7 linked regions of the Homo sapiens genome follow. The protein of the gene in region 1 purifies or fractionates together with the protein of each later gene. This does not show direct contact. Each region holds a gene or a part of one and is shown on either strand. Other genes may lie near its edges.

The links.
Region 2: the proteins of PPAT (region 1) and FAM114A1 fractionate together in Homo sapiens (co-fractionation; one large-scale study listed by BioGRID). This does not show direct contact.
Region 3: the proteins of PPAT (region 1) and SHMT1 fractionate together in Homo sapiens (co-fractionation; one large-scale study listed by BioGRID). This does not show direct contact.
Region 4: the proteins of PPAT (region 1) and G6PD purify together in Homo sapiens (affinity purification with mass spectrometry, with the first as the bait; one large-scale study listed by BioGRID). This does not show direct contact.
Region 5: the proteins of PPAT (region 1) and FAM167A purify together in Homo sapiens (co-immunoprecipitation; one large-scale study listed by IntAct). This does not show direct contact.
Region 6: the proteins of PPAT (region 1) and PRPS2 fractionate together in Homo sapiens (co-fractionation; one large-scale study listed by BioGRID). This does not show direct contact.
Region 7: the proteins of PPAT (region 1) and PARVA fractionate together in Homo sapiens (co-fractionation; one large-scale study listed by BioGRID). This does not show direct contact.

The regions. Positions count from the first base shown.
Region 1 is NC_000004.12:56,397,616-56,401,115, forward strand, and holds part of PPAT (amidophosphoribosyltransferase), read right to left. Parts: intron 3,297-3,500; coding exon 3,169-3,296; intron 1,786-3,168; coding exon 1,564-1,785; intron 1-1,563. UniProt on the Homo sapiens protein: Catalyzes the formation of phosphoribosylamine from phosphoribosylpyrophosphate (PRPP) and glutamine.
Region 2 is NC_000004.12:38,943,523-38,946,239, reverse strand, and holds the end of FAM114A1 (protein NOXP20), read right to left. Parts: coding exon 2,683-2,717; 3' UTR 501-2,682; downstream 1-500. UniProt on the Homo sapiens protein: May play a role in neuronal cell development.
Region 3 is NC_000017.11:18,329,962-18,332,550, reverse strand, and holds part of SHMT1 (serine hydroxymethyltransferase, cytosolic), read left to right. Parts: intron 1-1,879; coding exon 1,880-1,996; intron 1,997-2,589. UniProt on the Homo sapiens protein: Interconversion of serine and glycine.
Region 4 is NC_000023.11:154,536,847-154,540,346, forward strand, and holds part of G6PD (glucose-6-phosphate 1-dehydrogenase), read right to left. Parts: intron 1-3,500. UniProt on the Homo sapiens protein: Catalyzes the rate-limiting step of the oxidative pentose-phosphate pathway, which represents a route for the dissimilation of carbohydrates besides glycolysis.
Region 5 is NC_000008.11:11,425,254-11,428,753, forward strand, and holds part of FAM167A (protein FAM167A), read right to left. Parts: intron 1-3,500.
Region 6 is NC_000023.11:12,794,412-12,797,911, forward strand, and holds part of PRPS2 (ribose-phosphate pyrophosphokinase 2), read left to right. Parts: intron 1-3,500. UniProt on the Homo sapiens protein: Catalyzes the synthesis of phosphoribosylpyrophosphate (PRPP) that is essential for nucleotide synthesis.
Region 7 is NC_000011.10:12,527,571-12,531,070, reverse strand, and holds part of PARVA (alpha-parvin), read right to left. Parts: intron 3,223-3,500; coding exon 3,146-3,222; 3' UTR 1-3,145. UniProt on the Homo sapiens protein: Plays a role in sarcomere organization and in smooth muscle cell contraction. Required for normal development of the embryonic cardiovascular system, and for normal septation of the heart outflow tract.

The sequences.
Region 1 (3,500 bases):
GTATGAGCTACTGAAATAGAATAAGCTTTGAAATCTTAAAATAACTTAATATATCTATATAAAAACATGTACACAATAAATATATACATTTGTCAATTTAAAAAATAAAAATTAAAAAAAAATTTTTTTCAAGACATAAAGTGAGGCCGGGTATGGTGGCTCACACCTGTAATCAAGCACTTTGGGAGGCTGAGGCAGGCAGATGGCCTGAGCTCAGGAGTTTGAGATCAGCATGGGCAACATGGTGAAACCCTGCCTCTACTAAAAATACGAAAAATCAGCCGGGCATGGTGGTGTGTGCCTATGGTCCCAGCTATTTGGGAGGCTGAAGTGGGAGGATCTCTTGAGCCCAGGAGGTGGAGGTTGCAGTAAGCTGAGATCGAACCACTGCATTCCAACCAGGTGACACAGTGAGTCCCAGTATCAAGGAAAAAAGAAAAAAAGGCATAAAGTGATATTAAAATATAACTTGGCCGGGCACGATGGCTCACGTCTGTAATCCTAACACTTTGAGAGGCCGAGGCAGGTGGATCACCTGAGTCCAGGAGCTCAAGACCAACCTGGGCAACATGGTGAAACCCCGTCTCTGCTAAAAATACAAAAATTAGCCTGGCTGCAATGGCACATGCCTATAGTTGCAGCTATTCAGAAGGCTGAGGTGGGAGGATTGCTTGAGCCCCAGAAGCAGAGGTTGCAGTGAGTTGAGATGGTGCCATAGCACTCCAGCCTGGGCAACAGAGCCAGACACTGTCTTTAACAAATACATTTTAAAAAATAATAAGTCAAAGGTATTACACTGGGATTGGCTGCATGTCTTCAAGTAGAGAAAGCAATCAATACTCCATTGATTTTAAAAAGCATTCTATTGTGTGTTTTTGACTTTTTTTTTTTTGAGATCACTTCGGCTCACTGCAATCTCTACCTCCTGGGCTCAAGCCATCCTCCCACCTCAGCCTCCTAAGTAGCTGGAATTACAGGTGTGTGCCACCACGCCCCACCCATTTTTTGTAATTTTAGGAGAGGTGAGTTTCACTATGTCGTCCAGGCTGGTCTTGAACTCCTGGATGCAAGCAATCTGCCCACCTCAGCCTCCCAAAGTGCTGGAATTATAGGCATGAGTCACTGTGCCCAGCCTATTTTGTGTAGTTAGTCTTTGAATAAATTTTGTAAAAATTTTAGGTTTTTTAAAATTTAATTTTATTATTATCTTTTATTTTTGTAGAGACAGGGTCTCACTATATTGCCCAGGCTGTTCTCGAACTCCTGGGCTCAAGCAACCTCCTACCTCAGGCTCCCAAAGTACTGGGATTACAGGCATGAGCTACCTCGCCCAGCCTTAAGCTTTTATATTGAGCTTTTTTAATCTATTAAGGATTACATTTAATGTAAGTGTGGCTGTGACATGTTCTTCAAGTTGCTACACAGTTATTCCTAAACCAAACTGATAAAAAAAGTTAATTTATTATATTGAACATCCATTTTGATTCACTACCCTGAATTGCAATTTTATGCCAGTATCTTATTGTTAACTTATGCTTTAGGATATGTTTTAATATTACTTACCTCTTTTGCACCAGATTCTTTGAGCAGTTTTATTATAGGTGAGATGGTATTGCCTCTGACAATTGAATCATCTACAAGAACAATTCTTTTGCCTTTAAAGTTGTCTGACAATACTCCAAATTTTTTTGCAACACCAAGTTGTCTTAACCTCATGTTTGGCTGAATGAAGGTTCTCCCTACATACCGGTTTTTACACAGCACCTCCACATATGGAAGTCCACACTGATAGAGAAGAAATGAAAGGATAATGAGGAGTAATATACAGAATAGGCAAATATTTTCTCTAGGTTGTGTTGCCGCCACAATATTCAAGTAAAATTTCAAAATAATTTTCCTTTATTATTTGGAAAAAAGGCAAAAAGAAAAACCACTAAACAAAATATACTTGGTGGAAAAACCAATTCATTTTGTGAGGACTCATAATGTTTTTGTCTTAAACATTATTCCTCTGTTTTGAAAGATAACAGTAAGCATATGAAGACATGACAAAGATTAAATCACTGTCAGAAAAATTCATTATCAAAATGATAATTTTTAAAGAAATGAATTAAAATAAATAAATAAAAACCAGTAGACCAATGAGATACTTTTTAGGGATAGGAAGTAATTAACCCATTTATCAAGGTAATCTTTTCTAAAATGTATGCATATTAATTCTTTTAGAAGTTAATAAAGTATCCAAGGTAGTGAATATTGGATGTTATACCCCAGGATTACTACAGTTACACCATCTACCTGGTTATGAAAATAAAGCGTAACACTGACAACATCATGCTAAATGAACATAAACAGCTTTATTATTACCCATACTTAGTAGCAAGCAAATATTCCAGTGACTTGTGAAGATAATTCAAGACGTTTATTTTAATATTAAGTAAATTTTTCCACTGAATATATAGTTGATGAACACCATGGGTTTGAAGTACATGAGTCTACTTATAGGTGGGTTTTCTTCCATCTCTGCCACCCCTGGGACAGCAAGTCCAGCCCCTTTTCCTCTTCCCTCCTCAGCCTACTCAACGTGAAGACAACAATGAGGATGAAGACCTTTATGAAGATCCACTTTCACATAAGGAATAGTAAATATATTTTCTCCTCCTTATGATTTTCTTCAAAGCATTTACTTTTCTCTAGCTTACGTTATTGCAAGAATACAGCATATAATACATATACAAAATATGTTAATCAACTGTTTATGTTATTGGTCAGGCTTCCAGTCAACAGTAGGTTATCAGTATTTAAGTTTGGGGGCATTAAAATGCATACACAGATTTGACTGTGCAGAGGGTTGGCACCTTTAACTCCCAAATTGTTCAAGGGTCAACTGTATATTCATGATGTTATCTTTTTAAAAAGAAGGGTGCCAATTTCTGAACGCTTTAGTGAACGTTTTTTTCTTTTCAGTGAACCTTTTAGTGGTTTTCACTAAAATAGTGCCATTGGATAAAAAGCCTGGAAAATAAAAAACGCTTGTAAACAAACCAACATTAACCACCAAAGCTTCCTTTCTCCTTAGAAATGTTGATGAGTTTCTCTTTATAGGCAAGGGTTTCTTATTCCACAGCTGGGAGAGCAATTCACTGCATGTTAATTAAGAGAAAATACCTTTCCTGCGTAAGCAAGAGCAGCAGGCGTAGCAGATTCTGGAACAGTGCTAACCAAATCTGCATCCACAGGTGCTTCAATCGCTAGCTGCTGGCCACAACGGTATCTTACTGTATAAACCATTTGGTCTGGTGTGTTTGGAAAAGGAGAGAGAGTATTTTTACTTAGCATGATATAACAGTGTTATTCTAAAAAACTAGTGCTAGAATTCTACAGATTGAGTATAAAAAGAAATGCAATATATACAAAAATATGAATGTGAAAATACACAAACTGGGGAACTCAACTGTGTGGTTTTAAAAAAAAAATCGACCTTCATATAGATCTAGAAA
Region 2 (2,717 bases), about 17 Mb from region 1:
GACGGGATCTCCCTCTGCCGCCCAGACTGGAGTGCAGTGGTGTATCTTGGCTCACTGCAACCTCTGCCAGCCAGGCTCAAACGATTCTCCTGCCTCAGCCTCCCGAGTAGCTGGGACTACAGGCGCGACCCACCACATCCGGCTAATTTTTTTGTATTTTTAGTGGAGACAGGGTTTTACCATGTCTGCCAGGCTGCTCTCGAACTCCTGACCTCAGGTAATCCGCCCACCTCAGCCTCCCAAAGTGCTGGGATTACAGGTGTGAGCCACTGAGCCCTGCCACTTGTTTCTCTTTTACATTTCCACTTAATATCTAAACCCATCTGATGCAAAAAACAAAACAACAAAAAACAACAAAAAACTGATGTGAAGAAATTGTAAATCTATATCATTTCCTCTGCCCTACACATAAAAAGTCTAAAATTGATGAAGAGGTAAATGCAACATTTTCATCAGTTAATCATTCTCTAGACTTAATAAAAACATTTCTGGCAATCAGAAAAGGGGAAAAATCTTTAATTGATTTCTCAGGTAATTTTTTTCCAGATTGTACATAAAGTGTTCTTATGTTCTCTATTTGGATGTTTCAGGAGACATACAAATGAAATACAGTACATAGACAAATGAAATGCTAATAAGAAGTAGGATGATATTAAAATATCCTTACTTTGCCTGTATGGAACAAAGGCAGTCTACTCCATCGGGGAATCAAAGCAAATGTGAATAAGAGGTTTCCACCTTGCAAAACTGTGAGCTTCATTTGCCCTGGAGAGAACTACTAGGCAAGGCTTCACATGACAGTACCTGTAGGGATGTCCATGGGGCTGTGAAGCAGGTGTATTGTATCGAACATGCAGCTGCAATGAAGGCGTGGAGCTCAGGAGAAGCAGCCACTGACAATGCCCCTCCTGGCCGCAGGGTCTTCTGTGCAGCCTCCCATGGATCAATATACCAGTTAGTTAAAACACACATCAGTATTTTCTGTCCTTTAGCAACGATGATGATATTTGCCACCAGCGAGTGTGATCTGTGAGGCGATTTTAAAATGCAGTCCTGGGATTCTACTGTATTGAAACACCTTTGATTTTCTATTTGAATACTTCCAAGCTTTGTAATTATGCCACCATGTGCTCGTGATCGTAAGAAATTAATTTTAAACTAAATATTCTTCAGTATCCCTTTTCATATATATTTTCACCTCATATACATAGTTTGGGATAAAATAGTGTAAAGAGTATAGGAAAATGCAACAAATTAAAGGGTAGGACATTAAATAAAACACCAATTTACCTTGTTCTTCAAAGTTTTTAAGGTTCAAAAATTTATTGGTATTTTAAGCCAGTGGTCCCCAACCTTTCTGGTACCAGGGACCGGTTTCATGGAAGACAATTTTTTCACGGACTCGGGGTAGCGGGATGGGGGTGGGGGATGGTTTCGGCACGAAGCTATTCAACCTCAGATCATGAGGCATTAGATTCATCAGGCATTAGATTCTCATAAGGAGTGCACAACCTAGATCCCTCGCATGTGCAGTTCACAACAGGGTTCGCACTCCCATGAGACTCTAATGCTGCTGCTGACCTGACGGGAGGCAGAGCTCAGGCAGTAATGCAAGCTCTGGGGAGCAGCTGTAAATACAGATGAAGCTGTGCTCACTCACCCACCGCTCACCCCCTGCTGTGTGGCCTGGTTCCTAACCAGTGCCACGGACTGGTACTGGTCTGTGGCCTGGGGGTGGGGACCCCTGTTTTAAGCAGTTTAAGAATTATTCTTTTTCAGAATATCTACCTCTACTGGGATAAGATCACGTTTCTTTACTGTGAGCACACAGTAGGTGCTCAATAAATGCTTGTTGCAAGAATGAATGACCGGCCGGGCGCGGTGGCTCAAGCCTGTAATCCCAGCACTTTGGGAGGCTGAGGCGGGCAGATCACGAGGTCAGGAGATCGAGACCATCCTGGCCAACATGGTGAAACCCTGTCTCTACTAAAAATACAAAAAAAATTGGCTGGGCGTGGTGGCACACACCTGTAGTCCCAGCTACTCAGGAGGCTGAGGCAGGAGAATCGATTGAACCCAGGAGGCGGAGGTTGCAGTGAGCCGAGATTGTGCCAACGCACTCCAGCCTGGCGACAGAGTGAGACTCTGTCTCAAAAAAAAAAAAAAAAAAAGAATGACAATATGTTCCTATTTTTTACCATAATAGGTAAAATCTATAAGTAGTGTTATTTTTGCCTGCGACATTTATGTAACAAAACAAAGTTCAGTTTTAGAATTGATTTAAAGTAATACTATAAGAATGGAACATTTAAAGGTTGAAACATAAAGGATTAAACAAAAGTCTAAGGTCTCCCCATGAGTTTCTAAATATAGCATGCTTAACCAGGAAAATGAACACGAATATTTGTAAATAAATTTCAGATGAAAGGAAATTTTCAATATAAGCTGTGTAAGTTTAAATTAACATAAAGAAAACACAATTGTTTGTAAAAACAATTATACACATTGAGAGAAATGATAACTCTCTCTAAATTTGCATTCTCAATATTGTCTGTGCAAAATTGCTTGTAGTGTCCTCAAATGGATGTCTGTGGCCAGGCGCACAGAGAACATCCCCTTAAATGGTACATATTGAGGCAAGGCGGCCAGCTGTCTCCTTTAACTAGATGGAGTCTGGCCAGGTCACGGCTGTGCTTTCAAACAACTGGTCTGGATAT
Region 3 (2,589 bases), on another chromosome or scaffold:
TCCTCCGGAGGAAGGGCGACTTTATACCTAGTCCCACAAGACTGCCGATTGTGCTAGCAGTGGTGTGGTCCAGGAATATGGGTCCTGCTGTGTGTAGACCTGAGTGCCCACTCTCTGCACCGTGTCCTTTGCCCTTTACAGGGATTACAGGCCCTCTGATCTAAGGATTGGGGAGGGATTACAGGCCTCCTGGTCTAAGGAGTGGGGCTCCCACCCAATCCTGCATGTGCGGCAGTGCCTGGGAAGGCCGGGCCAGTGCTGTCTCCTCAGCAGTACCAGCCGTACCCTCTTTTATGTTCTACTTCACTTACTTTCTGTTCTCCCTTCATCCTCCATGTCTTCAAATAATAAAGCTCAAGAAGTCCTCGTGCAGACTGTGAACTTCAGGGTGCTTTAGCTCAGGAGTCCCCAACCTCCGGGCCACGGACTAGTACTGGTTTGTGGTCTGTTAGGAACCTGGCCGCACAGCAGGAAGTGAGCTGGGCCGAGAGCATTGCCACCTGAGCTCCGCCTCCTGTCAGATCAGTGGCAGCATTAGATTCTCAGAGGAGCTGAACGCTGGTTTGAACTGCACATGTGAGGGATCTAGGTTGGGCCTAGACACTTTCAAGAAACTATCTTTTTTTTCCTTCTGATTATACCTGCATCCTTATGAGAATCTAATGCCCGATGATCTGAGGTGGAAGTTTCATCCCAAAACCATCCCCCGATGCCATCCGTGAAAAAACTGTCTTCCACATAACCAGTTCCTGGTGCCAAAAAGGTTGGGGACCACTGCTTTAGGTCCCTGTTTCTTAAACTTCAATGTGCACACCACCCCTGGGGCTGTTGGTGCAATGCAGATTCTGACCAGGCCTTGGGTGATGCTGGTCTGGGAGCCACCCTTGGAGTTGTGAGGGTTTAGGCCATAGTCCCTGTCACCATGGGCATCTCATGGCATGGGCCTGCCCTCTCCCTGGTGACTGTGTCATTGTCACTCTGCCATCTGAGGACCCGATGCACATGGCTGAGACAGATAATGCTTGCAAATGCCCTCTTTGGTGCCTGGTGCTATGAGAAGCACTATGTCCAGTATCTTACTTAAACTTCATGACAGCCCTGTGAATTATTGGTCTTTTTGTTACAAATGGGCATCTGAGGTTTCACAATGTTGAGCTGCCTGCCTAAAGCCACACGGCAAGTGGGTGGGCACAGCTGGGGGGCTGCAAAGCCAAGCTGGAGCCCTAGCTCACCCGCATCTTGAAAGGGATCCCCGCAACACAGCTCAGAAGCAGAGGCCCCAGTGCTGTCAGCACCCAAGGCACTACCCCAGCTTAATGAAGGTTCAAAGTGGAAGGATCCTCCTGTATGACCTCGGGCCAGGTCCAGAAAACTCTGTTAGCCTTGCTGTTGTCACCTTACCACTTTGATAATACCATCAGCCTCACAGGATCCGGGAAAAACCTACCACAGGCTACAGTGTCTGGCACCTAATGTGCTCTGTGAACATGCCCCTTACCCCCCAAAGTAAATTGAACTGCTGCCCAATATTCATGCTGCCTTCAGGGGAGCCTTTACCATCAATGTTAGGGAATTGCCCAAGCAACTTGTCAGAGAAAACAAGCCAGGAGCAGCCTGAGGAAGCTGTCCCTTCCCCATGGGAGTGTCAGGCCCTCTGCTGTATGATCAGTTACCCCTTTCAAAAGTGCTCTGTCCTTCCTTTCACATTCTTAGGCACGGGCATCTCTCGTGGGGATTAGAATCCCAGGCCATGTGGTGGGGGTGCTCACCTTCCTGACCTCATCTGCTTTGACTGCCTTCATCCTCGCCTTCGTTTCTCAGAGATTCCTTCACGGCATAGAATTCGCCTGCATTTCTACATGTCCAACTTTGTTTCCAGGTGGTTCTGACAACCATTTGATCCTTGTGGATCTCCGTTCCAAAGGCACAGATGGTGGAAGGGCTGAGAAGGTGCTAGAAGCCTGTTCTATTGCCTGCAACAAGAACACCTGTCCAGGTGAGAATCATCCTTGCCTTCTCCTTCACTCCTCTCCCATCTGCATTTCTTCTGGCCAAAGTTGTAGCTGATGAATATATTGGCTCCGGGGACAGACCTCACATAAAAACTGTAGTGGGGGCTGGGCACGGTGGCTCACGCCTGTAATCCCGGCACTTTGGGAGGCCGAGGCAGGCGGATCACTTGAGGTCAGGAATTCGAGACCAGCCTGGCCAAAATGGTGAAATCCTGTCTCTACTAAAAATAGAAGAATTAGCTGGGCATGGTGGTGCATGCCCGTAATCCCAGCTACTTGGAAGGCTGAGGCAGAAGAGTCGCTTGAACCCGGGAGGCAGAGGTTGCAGTGAGTGGAGATTGTACCACTGCACTCCAGCCTTAGCAACAGAATGAGACTCTGTCTAAAAAAAAAAAAACTGGGCCAGGTGCAGTGGTTCACACCTGTAATCCCAGCACTTTGGGAGGCCGAGGTGGGTGGATCACGAGGTCAGGAGATTGAGAAGGCTAACGCGGTGAAACCCTGTCTCTACTAAAAATGCTGTGGTGGCACACACCACGGTCCCAGCTACTCAGGAGGCTGAGGCAGAAGAATTGCT
Region 4 (3,500 bases), on another chromosome or scaffold:
AAAAGATAGAACTGCAAGCCAAATTACCAGGAAGAAAATAGGAAATAATGACAAGTAAAATTAATAAAATTAAAAGCTAACCCAAAGAAAAGATGAACAAAGCTGGAAATTGGTGTTTGAAAAAGACGAATAGAAACAGACAACCCCCTGGCATGGTTGCTTTTTTAAAAGGGCATAGGCCGGGCACAGTGGCTTACTCCTGTAATCCCAGCACTTTGAGAGGCCGAGGCAGGCGGATCAAGAGGTCAGGAGATCGAGACCATCCTGGCTGACACGGTGAAACCCCGCCTCTACCAAAAATACAAAAAATTAGCCAGGCGTGGTGGCGGGTGTCTGTAGTCCCAGCTACTCGGAAGGCTGAGGTAGGAGAATCACTTGAACCCGGGAGATGGAGGTTGCAGTGAGCCAAGATTGCACCATTGCACCCCAGCCTGGGCGACAAGAGTGAAACTCCGTCTCAAAAAACAAAAAACAAAAAAACAACTAAACAGCTGGACGCGGTGGCTCAAGCCTATAATCCCAGCACTTTGGAAGGCCGAGGCGGATGGATTACCTGAGTTCGGGAGTTCAAGACCAGCCTGACCAACATGGAGAAACCGTTTCTACTAAAAATACAAAATTGGCTGGGCATGGTGGCCCATGCCTGTAATCCCAGCTACTCAGGAGGCTGAGGCAGGAGAATCGCTTGAACCTGGGAGGCGGAGGTTGCAGTGAGCCAAGATCAAGCCACTGCACTCCAGCCTGGGCTACAAAAGCGAAACTCCGTCTCAAACAAACAAAAAACAGAGCAATGGACCTGAGAGGGGACAGTGGCCACAAATCTTCCTACAGAAACAACCCCCTGGCATAGAGAGTGTTGCCAGTGGGTTCTACCAAAATGCAAGCACAAGAGAATTCCAGCCTGAAGCAAACTCTTCCTGCAGAAGGAAGAAAGGGGAACACTTCCCAAGCCACCTTATGGGGCCTACAGAGCCTTGGTACGGAAACCTGATGAGAAAGGCACATGGGAAAACCCATACGCCTCATTCACACACACATGCAGATGCAGAAATCCCACACGAAATATCAGCAGGCCGGGCACAACTCACACACCCCAGCACTTTGGGAGACCAAGGTGGGAGGAAGATTGCTTGAAATCAGGAGGTTTTTTTTTTTTTTTTTTTTTAAAGACATGGTCTCACTCTGTCACCTAGGCTGGAGTGCAGTGGCACGATCTCAGTTCACTGCAACCTCTGCCTCTGGGCTCAAGCAATCCTCCCACCTCAGCCTCTGGAGTAGCTGGGACTACAGGTACATGCCAACACACCCAGCTAATTTTTTGTATTTTTTGTAGAGACAGGGTTTCCCCATGTTGTCCAGGCTGCTCTTGAACTCCTGGGCTCAAGTGATCTGCCCGCCTCAGCCTCCCAAAGTGTTGGGATTACAGGCGTGAGCCACGACGACCCACTGACCCTGTCTCTTTAAAAAAAAAGAAGAAAACATCAGCAAACCAAATCCTGCAATGTTAAAAACGGTAGGTTTTTTATTTACAGAATAAATACATCTGTAAATAAAAAGTTGGTTTGATATTAACAGAAAAAAATCATTGAAATTCACCATATTAAGAGATTAAAAAAAACCTCTAAGAACTCTCTGCCTACTGCTATGTTTTGATTTTTTAAATCTAGCAATCTTGCTCAACCCAACAGATGTAGATCAAGTGTTTCAGAAATCACCTATTCACGCTAAAACTCTTAGCAGAGGGGGAATGCAAGGGAACTTCACTAACTTGATAAAGGGCATCTATAAAACACCATTCTGGCTGGGCGTGGTGGCTCAAGCCTGTAATCCCAGCACTTTGGGAGGCCGAGGCGGGGAATCGCTTGAGGTCAGGAGTTTGAGACCAGCCTGACCAACATGGTGAAACCCCATTTCTACTAAAAATACAAAACTTAGCTGAACATGGTGGTGTATGCCTGTAATCCCAGCTATTCAGGAGACTGAGGCAGGAGAATCGCTTGAACCAGGAGGGAGAGACTGGAGTGAGCCGAGATCACACCACTGTAGCCTGAGCAACAGAGCTAGACGTCGTCTCAAAAAAAAAAACCACCACCAAAAAACAAAGAACAAAAAAACCCCCAAACCATCATCCTTACAAATACTACAAATATCACACTTATAGGAAATGCTGAAATATTAATCATCCCTTTAAGCAATCAGGAACAAGAAAAGTGCAGTAAGGCAAGAAAATGAAAATGGCTGAAGTTGAGCTGTGAGGTGGTGCGGGTGCTCCCTCTGATCAAGTGAAACACACACCTATCCTGTGACCTGGCCGTTCCACCCCAAGAGAAATGAAAGTGCAAGTCCACACAAAGACCTGCACACGAATGGTCACAGCAGCCTTGGTTCATAGCGGCCCCAAACTGGAAACAAGTCAAACACTTGAATTAACATGTGACCCGGCAAACTGTGCATTCATACAACGGATACTACTCAGCAACACTGGGAAATCTCAGCATCAGAGATGCAACCCATTGTGACAGAAATCAGATCAGCGGTTGCCTGGAGCAGGGCAGATTGGCTGGGAATGGGTACCCAGGAACTTTCTGGGGAGATGACGATGGCCTTTATTGTGATGAGGGTGTACAGCCAATTGTACAGTTAAGATTTGCGCACCAACAAAAGACGGCGAGAAAACCAACAATGGAGCGGAGGGTGGGGAGTGGGTCAGAAATGACCCTTTGAGGGCCAGTGACTGTGAGAGCCCCAGGTGAGGGGGCTTCCTGGGTGCAGAGCATATTCTGTTTCTTGATCTAGGAGCAGTTTCTGTGGCTGTGCTGAGTTTGTGAAAAGTCATCAACAAGCTAGACCTGCACCATCTGTGTTCTTCATGACATGTATTTCTTTTTTTTTTTGAGACGGAGTCTCACTCTGTCGGCCAGGCTGGAGTGCAGTGGCGTGATCTTGGCTCACTGAAATCTCCACCTCCTGGGTTCAAGCCATTCTCCTGCCTCAGCCTCCTGAGTAGCTGGGACTCCAGGCACCTGCCACCACGCCCGGCTAATTTTTGTATTTTTACTAGAGATGGGGTTTCGCCATGTTGGCCAGGCTGGCCTCAAACTCCTGACCTTGTGATCCACCTGCCGTGGCCTCCCAAAGTGCTGGCATTACAGGCGTGAGCCACCGTGGCCGGCCCATGACATATATTTCAATAAAACATGGTAAAAACTAATAGTCTGGGCGTGGTGGCTCATGCCTGTAACCCCAGCACTTTGGGAGGCTGAGGAGGGTGGATCACCTGAGGTCAGGAGTTCGAGACCAGCCTGGCAAACATGGTGAAACCCCGTCTCTACTAAAAATACAGGCCAGGCGCGGTGGCTCATGCCTGTAATCCTAGCACTTTGGGAGGTTGAGGTGGGTGGATCACGAGGTCAGGAGATTGAGACCATCCTGGCCAACATGGTGAGACCCCGTTTCTACTAAAATACAAAAAATTAGCTGGATGTGGTGGTGCGCGCCTG
Region 5 (3,500 bases), on another chromosome or scaffold:
TCACTACAACCTGTGAAGTGATGTCACCATCATCACCCACAGCTTATAGAGGAGGACACAGAGGCACAGCCAGGGAATTAGCTGTGTCGGCTCACAAAGCTCATCCACAGCCGAGCTGGGATGAGGAAGCCGGACAGCTGGACTCCAGAACCAAAATGACTGACAATGAAGTTCTGCTGCTCAAGGACGAGCTGCAGTGTGGTGTATGGAGCTAGCAGAGTGCTTAGTGACCTTGTAGAAGGTTCCTAATATTTTTAGTGGCTTGATGTTTCCTATTGATGTGTAAACACAAGGTAAAATCCTAAGCCCCCCAACTGACTGAACAAGCCCGCTCTTCATCAAGAGGACCCCAGAGAAGCCTGAAAACTGAATTCCCAGCCGTGATGGGAATGGAGTTCAGACATGCTTTGTTATACCCCCCCTTGCTGTTGGAGTTTAGGCACAGCAGATCGGCATTAACATTGAAATAGAGATATAAGACTGACAAAACAGACTCTTTGTGGCAGTAAGGTAGCAAATTCCTGCCTCTGGTATAGCGTCACATAACAGGTAGCAAACCCTGAAGAAAATAAAAATATTTTACCCTGAAGTATATTTCTTTGACATATTTTGAAATGGCCCTGCAAAACCATCTCTTGTGGGAGATACTTACATCTGTAGAGCATTTCCATTAATGCAATCAAGCCTTCCCTTTCTAGGCCTTTCCAAGATCTAGGAGAGATTAAATGAGAGTCTGGCAAATTTAAGGTCTGAAAAGAGATATTTACCATCTATTTTCTCTAAAGGCTTCTACCTGGAGGCTTCATCTACATAACAAGAACCTTGGCCTCCACAACTGTCCTTTGTCTTAAGCATTTCTTTCTACTGACTTCAAGTCTTTAGGCAAAACTTAACTCTTTCAATCAACTGGCAATAAAAATATCTTTGAATCTACCTAAGACCTGTAAGCACCCCCACCCTCCAAGCCCCTTCAAGATATCCCACCTGTTTAGGCTGAACCAAGGTATACCTTCTGTGTATTGAGTTATGTCTTTGCTTGTAACTCCTGTCTCTCTGAAATGTGTAAAACCAAACAGTAACTGGACCACCTAGGGCGAGCTTTCTCAGGACCTCATGAGACTGTTCCCTGGCCCATGGTCACTTACACTGGCTCAGAATAAACCTCTTTAAGTATTTTACAGAGTTTGTTTTCTTCTGTTAACAAAGAGATGTGATAATTATTTCTCACCTGGCTTCACACTCCCAGTTTCCCAAACCCACTGTAAACCAAAAGTGTCTGAGACAGGTGTCAACAATTTAGAAAGTTTATTTTGCCGACGTTAAGGATGCACACCTGGGAGGCAGGTCTATGCCTTTCCTCAAAGATGATTTTGAGGGCCTTAATATTTAAAGGGGAAGGAGTGGATACTGGGGGAAGAGGAAGAAATTTTTTAAAGGTGTAGGTAGATAAGAGACAAACGATTGCATTCTTTTGGGTCTTTGATCAGCCTTTGGTTGATCAGTCTTTGATCAACCGAATACACAATTTACATGTTTGTTTAGGGTAGAGGAAAAGTCACTTGTGTCTTAGTCTGGCTCACTGAATCTGCATTTTTATAGAAGATAACATAAACACAAGGCACGTGAAGCAATCAGGTATGCATTCGTCTCAGGCGAGCAGAGGGATGACTTTGAGTTTTGTCCTTTGTCCCGCACCTGAGAAGATCAGATGTCAATTTACATTGCCAGGGTGAAATTCAACAGAACTGTTTTAGGGTACAGGTCTGGGGGCCCAACACGGAAGTTCTTTGTGGGCCAATTGTGAGGGAGGTATGTAGGTTTTGTCTTTGCAGCTATCTTATCTAGAAATAAAATGGGAGGCAGCTTTGCCTGATGCAGTTCCCAGCTTGACTTTTCCCTTTGGCTTAGTGATTGTGGAGTCCTGAGATGTATTTTCTGCTCATGTTTAACCTTGATGGGCCTCACAGCCACTCCTGAGGTACCAGCAGGACAGTCTGGCTCCATATTTTACCAGCCAGCATGCTAGCTGGAGCTCAGAGGGCTGGTTTCTCAGTTGTGACATGGTACATAGGGACTGGCTTAGTGCAGAGCGCCTTCTGTAAGCAGCACTTTGTCACTGGGACAGGTTGCCAGCTGCTCCTACTTGACTCGAGATCTGAATCCTTCTCACTATTTCCTCTGTCTCCACTTGTAAGTGGTTATTTAGTATTTCTGCGACATGCTCGGCTGTGCCATTTACCTGGTGCCTGGAGCCAAACTGATTAGAAAAATGAGCCCTGAGATGCCCTGTAGTTATGCAAATGAAGGCAGTGTTCTCACTTTCTCCCTGTTAGGTTTATAATAGAGCACATTGCAGGGTAGAAAAATTAAGTGACCTTGCCAGCGAGCATCTCAATGTTCTTTTTTTCCTCTCTCGTTTTTTATGCACTTGTACAGATCTCTTTTCTCCTGATTTCATATATAAGAAAAATCAAGATAGAAAGTCTTGCTTGGGAGTCAGCAAGGTATCTAATGGCAAAATTGGGATTAAAGTTCATAGCCACATTCATTAGTTTACTTTTCAATCCTTGGGCCTCAAGCATTGAAGAAACTCAAATTTATTGCTAATTAAATTCTATTGACCTAGAATAGCACCAAATTAATGATGATAGGGTGGCTGGTCATTTGTTTTGTAATGGTGTCCCTCACTGAGCCTGGAACGGAGCTAGGTGCTACCTAAACCCTTCTGAGGAGATGGGGGTCAAACCTGCCTGAAAGATATTGTCTGCGAACACCCATTGCCTTAGTACAGTCATCTGTCACTTCTCTTTGGAGTGTTCTGTAATTTGACAATAGATCTTTTTGAAAAACTAGGAACCCTATGGTTTAAGATTTGAGCTTTGGCCCCAGGAATTGCATCTTTGGTGTGAAAAGATCCTTTGAAGTCGGGGAATTTGGGGTGTGGCCAGGTGTCTAAGACTATCTGTGAGACGCAGGCTGTGGCGGACACATCTCTGTGGGGTAGCAGGAAGGAAGGGGCTGTTTTTCTGTGGCTGACAGATCTGGTCAAAGGTCAGAGAACAATTTACTCTTTAAGACCCATCAGAGGCAGCTAGAAAGAGGGCTGACAGTAAGGCCTGTGTCAGTTTCCATGGACTGGACAAAGGCCGCCTGGATGGCGTTGCCTCGCACGCCCATGCTGTGCACATGCATTCAATTCTGCGTAAGGGTGAAAAGAGAAAGAAAGCTGCAGCTTCAACAGGGATGGTGATTCCGGCCGGTCTCCCTGCTTGCGCTCTGAGAGAACATGAGGAGGGGGCTGGGAATTGCAACTTCCTCAGTGGGCTTTGGTTCTGAGGGCATCTCACAGCGTGAGCATCTCGCTAGGATGCACTATGGGTTCTCACATTTAGATGCTCACAATACATAGTGTGTTGGGATCCCTGCACACAAATCAACAAATTCATCTCCTGCCCCAAAGAACAGGGTTTGTCCCCGTGATGCGGGAGCCCTGGCTGTGC
Region 6 (3,500 bases), on another chromosome or scaffold:
TTAAGGACTGGGCTTGCAAGTTGGTGTATCATAATTTCTGTCATATGCTGTTGGGCAAGTACAGAGCCCTCTCAGATTCAAGGGCGGGAGACTAGACCCTGCTCCTTGATGGGAAATGTGTTAAGAGTCTGTGGCTATCTTTTAGTTACCATGCCCGTTTATTGTTGAGTCAGTGACGCTCTTCAGCGTTTTTATTTGGGGGTCAATAAAGATCCTCTGGCAGAATGGCAAATGGATGCTGCCTTCTAGCCACAATTTTTTAAAGACCTAGAATAAAGGTAGTCATGATCATCTTTTTGAGTAGAAGCAGGACTAGCTTTAGGGGAAAAGTTGCCATGGTGATGATATTCTCTGTCCTCCCCTGGACTGCTAGTCATATGAGAACTGAGGTTCCTGAGTAAAAACAGGCCAAAGAATCTAATCTTGTGGGATAAACGTCATAAGACCAGGAGTTGGCAAAGTTTTTCTGCAAAGGGCCAAATCGTAAATATTTTAGGCAGTGCTAGCACATGTAGTCTCTGTTGCTGCGGTATCTTACAGTTCTGTAAGTTACGGTAATGTCTGTCACAGGTTAGCAGGGCTGTATTCTCTTCTGAGGCTCTAGGGGAGAATCTGTTCCCGTGCCTTTTCCGGTTTCCAGAGGCAGCCCACATTCCTTCACTATTGGCCTCTTCACCTTCAATGTCAGCAACAAAATGTTGCTCTGACCCTGCTTCTGCTGTCTCCCTCTTGCATTTTTAAGGGCCCCATGATTACAATGGGCCAATTTAAATAATCCAGGATAATTTCCCCATGTTAAGGTCAGCTGATGAGCAACCTGAATGCTATCTGCAAATTTACTTCCCCTTTGCCATATAAACTCACATATTCAAAGGATTAGGATGTAGACATCTTTAGGGGGCCATTATTCTGCCTACCACGCCATTCTTAACTCACAGGCCATAGAAAAACAGCCTATGTGCTGTGTTTTGTCAACCTCTCAGCTATATAATACTGTACTTGATTTCTGCTGTAGTTCATTTTGTGCTGCTATAACAGAATACCAGAGACTGGCTAATTTATAAACAATAGAAATTTGTTTCTCACAGGTCTGGAGGCTGGGAAGTCCAATACTGAGGGGCTGGCATCTGGCAAGGGCTTTCTTGCTGCATCATCCCATGGCAGAAGGGTGGAAGGGCAAGAGAGCATATTTGAGAGAGAGCAATAGAGGGCCAAATTTGCTAATATAATAAACCCATTCTCAAGATAATGAGCACACTCTAGCAATGATGACGTTAATCCGTTTGTGAGGACAGAGCCCTTATGACCTAATCACCTCTTAAAGGTCTCACCTGTCAATACTCCTATACTGGGGATTAAGCTTTCAACACATGAACTTTAGGGAACACATTTAAACCATAGCAATTTCCAAATTAAGTTTATGTCATAGTTGATGTAGTGTTCACAAAGCAGTTAGATTTAGCTCCTTAGATCTTCAAATAGGAGGGAGCACATAGAACTCTTTCTATCCCCCTCATCCTGTGAGGTTGGCATATTTTCATCCATAGTAGAAGGCGTGCAAGAAGATGTGTGAATGTTATCAAAACTAATTTTCACAACATGTCAACTTGAAAAACTTTATTTTTATTTTCCTTTTCTTTAAAATTTTTTTTAGAGACGGGGTCTTGCTATGTTGCCCAGGCTGGACTAGAACTCCTGGGCTCAAACAATCCCCTTGCCTCAGTCTCCCAAGTAGCTGGGACTGTGGGCATGAGCCACCATGCCCAGCCTGTTTTTAAATTTTCATTAGGTATAATTGGCTCTTTTTTTTTTTTTTTTTTTTTTTTGAGACAGAGTTTCACTTTTGTTGCCCAGGCTGGAGTGCAATGGTGCGATCCCAGCTCACTGCAAGCTCCGCCTCCCGGGTTCAAGTGATTCTCCTGCCTCAGCCTCCCGAGTAGCTGGGATTACAGGCATGCACCACCACACCTGGCTAATTTTGTATTTTTTAGTAGAGATGGGGTTTCTCCATGTTAGGCTGGTCTAGAACTCCAGACCTCAGGTGATCAGCCCACCTTGGCCTCTCAAAGTGCTGGGATTACAGGCGTGAGCCACCGCGCCCAGCCTTAATTGGCTCTTTTAAGAAAACAATTTCATTGAGTATCTGATAGCAGGAGAAGAGAGAAGGATAATTATTCATGTTCCTTATTTGTAATTTTAAAATATTTCATTTTGGGATGAATAAATTTACAGACAATTCTGCCATAATGTGACATATGTATTCCTAAAAATTACCACGCTATGCAAAATCAGGCAATCCAAAACCACAGGGCTTATGAGAAAAATGGGGTTAGGGACATAACATTCAAAAACTTCCTCAGTGACCCATTAAAAAATCATAGGAATGTTATATAGATTGAGCATCCCTTATCAGAAATGCCTGGGACAACAAGTATTTCAGATTTTTTTTTTTTTTTTTTTTTTTTTTGCATTTTGGAATATTTCTATTGTACTTACTGGTTGGACATTCCAAATCTCCAAAAATCCAAAATCCACAATGCTCCAATGACCATTTCCTTTGAGCATGATGTCGACACTCAGAAAGTTTCGGATTTCAGAATTTCGGATTAGGGTTCCTATCAAAATGGTAAAACACTGACATGTATTACATGCTCAAAAAATACTGGCTGGGTGCAATGGCTCACGTCTGTAATCCCAGCACTTTGGGAGGCTGAGGTGGGCGGATCACTTGAGGTCAGGAGTTCAAAACCAGCCTGGCCAACATGGCAAAACCTCCCTCCACTAAAAATACAACAAATTAGCCAGGCGTGGTGGTGCATGCCTGTAATCCGAGCTACTCGGGAGGCTGAGGCAGGATAATCACTTGAACCTGGGTGGCAGAGGTCGGAGTGAGCTGAGATGTCACCACTGCCCTCCAGCCTGGGCAACAGAGTGAGACTCTGTCTTTAAAAAAAAAAAAAAAATTACATAAATATTATGACAGAGATGGAACTTTCCATTGAAAAATGCCTGAGGTTTAGGGTTCTCTGAAATGACATGAAAAGTTGTGACACCAAATGTGAATGAGTGTGGCTCATTGTCCTCGAGGTGTGTACATGTGTATGTTTGTGTATTTCTAAGTGGCTCCATTCAGCTGGGTACACTGCAGTTTTCTGCAGTCTCGGGATAAGAGGTTGTGCATAAGAAAACATGAAATTCATGCTATGCTCAAATTGTTCCAAATAATATCAATCATTGGAACAAATTTGCCTTTTCAAAACATAGCAGAGCTGACCATCTTCTTGGTTTGGACGCAGAGCTCTGGGAAGGACATGCCTGAGCACACAGCACTATTTTCTGTTTCTTCCCACCAAAGGAATATGCCAGGGATGAGCTGGCTCTCCCTCTCATGTTGGACATCCAGAATTCTGTACCTGGAAATACAGAAACTTCCAGACATGCAATTTTCAAAAACTTAGCTGCTATTTACTCTTTCTCCAGAAGCTACGCAAGGATGCCAA
Region 7 (3,500 bases), on another chromosome or scaffold:
AGTCCTGGTAATATATAAAAATGAAACCTTCATCAATCTGCATACAATTCACCATAAGGTTCCAAAAGAGGACTTAAAAACATTCGGTTCGAGGCACATGAGGATGCCTCTGATAATGTGCCCCAGCCTCTGGTCCTGCACCCCATAGGTTTTAGACTCTACTTTTGAAATCATTGTCTAGGCAGCCTTTCCTCCTTCGGCTAGGGCTTTTTTCCTTTCCTAGCTCGAGCAGACTGGAGATACGCATTTGGATTTATGAAGTGCTCAGATTGTTATTTTAAAATGTGAAAGGAGTTCTTTTTAATACCCAGGGTAATACAATATCCAAGATATAACATTAAGTGATAAAAAACAAAGTGTATGACAGTATAGATGACATCCTACTTATATTTTTTGAAGCCCGCAGATTTTATATGTATGTTTGTGCTTTACATGCCTAGAGTATCTCTGGCAGTGTGTGTAAGAAATGGATCAAAACAGTTGCCTCCAGGGAGAGGTAATGGGTGCCGGAGGAGAGAGGGAGGCTTAGGTTTTCCACTAGATACCTATTTGCGCTTTTTAAATTTTGCACCATGTATGTATTAAGCATTAAAAATAACTGAGTTTAAATTAACAGAAAAGAAAAGAAAACCCAGTGAGCCTATGAAGTGTTGATTCTCATTTTGGTTTCTTTTTTCTTTTTTTTAAAGATGAAGATTAAGTTTGTTTTATTTATTCTTGATTCCTCTTTTGCCTTTCAAAGTCATGGTCATATATTAAGTAGGAGATTCCAGGTTCTAAAGTAAAATATCGAACTGAGATGACAGCATTAGAAAACCAGGCCCAGGACCTGGGATTCTGGGCTGAGACAAAGAACTCAATCCCAAAACACAATTTTCTGATAAATTAGAACTGTTATTTAAAAACTTTCCTAGTGTTCCAATGTATTTTCATACTGTATATATGTAAAATACAAAAGGAGCACTCTTAGTAAGGATACTTGTACATTTGTAACTTGAATATAAGAAAAAGAGACCAAAAAAGAGACAAAATTCATAAAGCAAAGCATGTTTAAATGAATGCATTCCTCTTACTTCATCCTGCTTCAGTATTGCTCAAGAAAATGAAGCAATTATTTATCTTGATTTGCTACCAGGAATTTTTTTAAAAGCAAAAGAAATATTACACTATTTAGTGTTTCCTAATAAAAAATAAAATTTCACTAATTATGTAAAAAAGAATTGTATTCTTTTACATAGATCAACACAAAACAGTACATTGCCTTTGTATGTTAAATGCTCATTATGCTGAGTGACAATTCTAAGAGCAAAGACATGTAGTTATCTAAATTTTATGGGTCCTCAATTACTGCAGATAGACAGTACAGTAAGAGACAGTACAGTAAGAAATAAAAAGGCTGAAAGGAATGTTTTGGACATTATAGGAGGCCTAACTTTGGGTGGTGTAGATACAGATCAAAATGAATTCTCAAACCAGAGATGGGCTTTGTGGAATGGGCCTAAAGTAGTGACAAGGTAGTCACAGACTTCTGGAGGAGGGTACTTGGGCTGGTGTCTACCTGGCATATTTAGGAACATTCCATAACGAGATGTAATATCAGCACAATTGATTATTTAGCCCAAGGTCTCAGTCAGTTGATGGCTACAAGTGTTAAGTACCACAAGCCCCACCTCTATCTCTGTATGTTTAGAGTGCAAATATTTTCCCCATGCTTCTCGTCCCCTAGTCACTGCCCACCCCCCTCCGCCCTTCCCTATTCTTACAGGACTTAGCAGGCTGGCACACTAGAGCTCTGTCTTTCAAAGTCAAGTTCACATAGAGGAGATACAAGTAACCACAAGCCCTTGAGTAACCCACGCAAAGAAACTGCTTGGCTTTGGTCTAAATGACTTACATTTTTCCTCGCTTGAATTAGCCGGTAATTACATGTGGGCAGACTTAGCCAGAATAGTCTAAATGATCAATTAGAAGGCAAAAAGAAGTTCCTTTCTTTAAAGTTCAAGGGTCCCTGTTGAAGAGCCCTACTTCCAAAGTGATGCTCACATGGGCCCGTGCCCAGCTCTCTGCGGTGCCTGAGCATATTGTACATTTGCTTAACGATAATGAATTTAGTACTTATTTTGCAGGAAAATATAGGGCATTTCCATTACATGCAATCAAGCAAAAAGGCTGCAAAATGTGCCACTCCATTAATTCTAAACAAAATCCTTCCCAAATGTCACCCTGAAACCAAAGTACAGAGTTATTATAAATCTGAAGGAATTAAGAGTAATTTTCATTTGTACAAAGGATGTGAGGGACATGACTCCTGCCACACACACACTATTAATTGGGTTAAATCCAATTTGCCAATTTCAGTGTGAATCACTAAGCTCTGACCTAGCTTGCCCCAGTGGTGAGATCAGTGGGTTCTCGTGTTTTTGGCTCAGGTGTACATGTGCACGTGCTCAGATGTGCACACACATACACAACTTTAGAACATGCAAAGAACATAATGTAATTGGCTTGTTATAAACATGTTGTACTGTCTACTATTGAGGAATGCATACTTAGCTAAAAAGAAAAGCAAAACCTTGATGATTGGACTCAGAATAGTGGTTACCTTTAGGGAGAAGGGAGAGGTTATGTTCAAAGAGGAAAAAAATTCCAACTTCTGGCAAGTCATTTAACCTCCAAGCCTTAGTTTCCTCATCTGTAAAAGGGGAATGAAACACCTACGTCAATGGGAGTCCTGAAGATTAATGGCCTTGAGTATATCAGAGCAGAGCACTTAGTGTGGGGCCTGACACACAGTTAGCATCCTTTGAATGGTAACTAGGATCTTTATTTTCATCTTGTGGGGACTCTTTTGCCTAAGCTGGTTCCCAAATCATGGAGGGAAATCTGGACCTGGCACCGGGAAGGGAACAACCTTCCCAACCTTCATTGCTAGGTTGGTCCCCAGCGCCTGGGAGGGATGGGTCAGCCCACTGAGTTATTGATGATTTCCTTCCTAATTTCAGTTTCCACTATCTCTGGGTTGCAGCTGGACTTGTGGGAGAGCACAGTGCAAGAGACAGGAATAAGCAGGGTAAGGCAGTTCGGAGGAGGGTCCAGTACGCCAACAGCAAGAACTCTTGGGCAGTGGTGGGCCCAGGGCAGCCCCTCACTCCACGTTACGGTACTTGGTGAAGAGGTTGTACAACACTCGTAGTGTAGATTTCAGGTCACAGTTGACTATGTCTGCGTAGAAAACAAAAAACACCAATTGTTTCCATGGGGCCACATGTTCCAAAGCTGGCATACACTGCCCCTCCCTTCCACCCACCACCCAATCCCATGTACCCAGCATGTTCGGGGCAGATGGGTAGAGTGGGCAGCGAGAATTCAGAGCAGGGGGCAGTGAGGGTAGAGGTGCTGGGGCACAGCATCTCCAGATAAGAAGGCCTGACCCTCCCCACAATCCCCACCTGTCCCAGGGGCTCTTTGCCCACTGCCTCCAACCTCCATCATAGAACCAA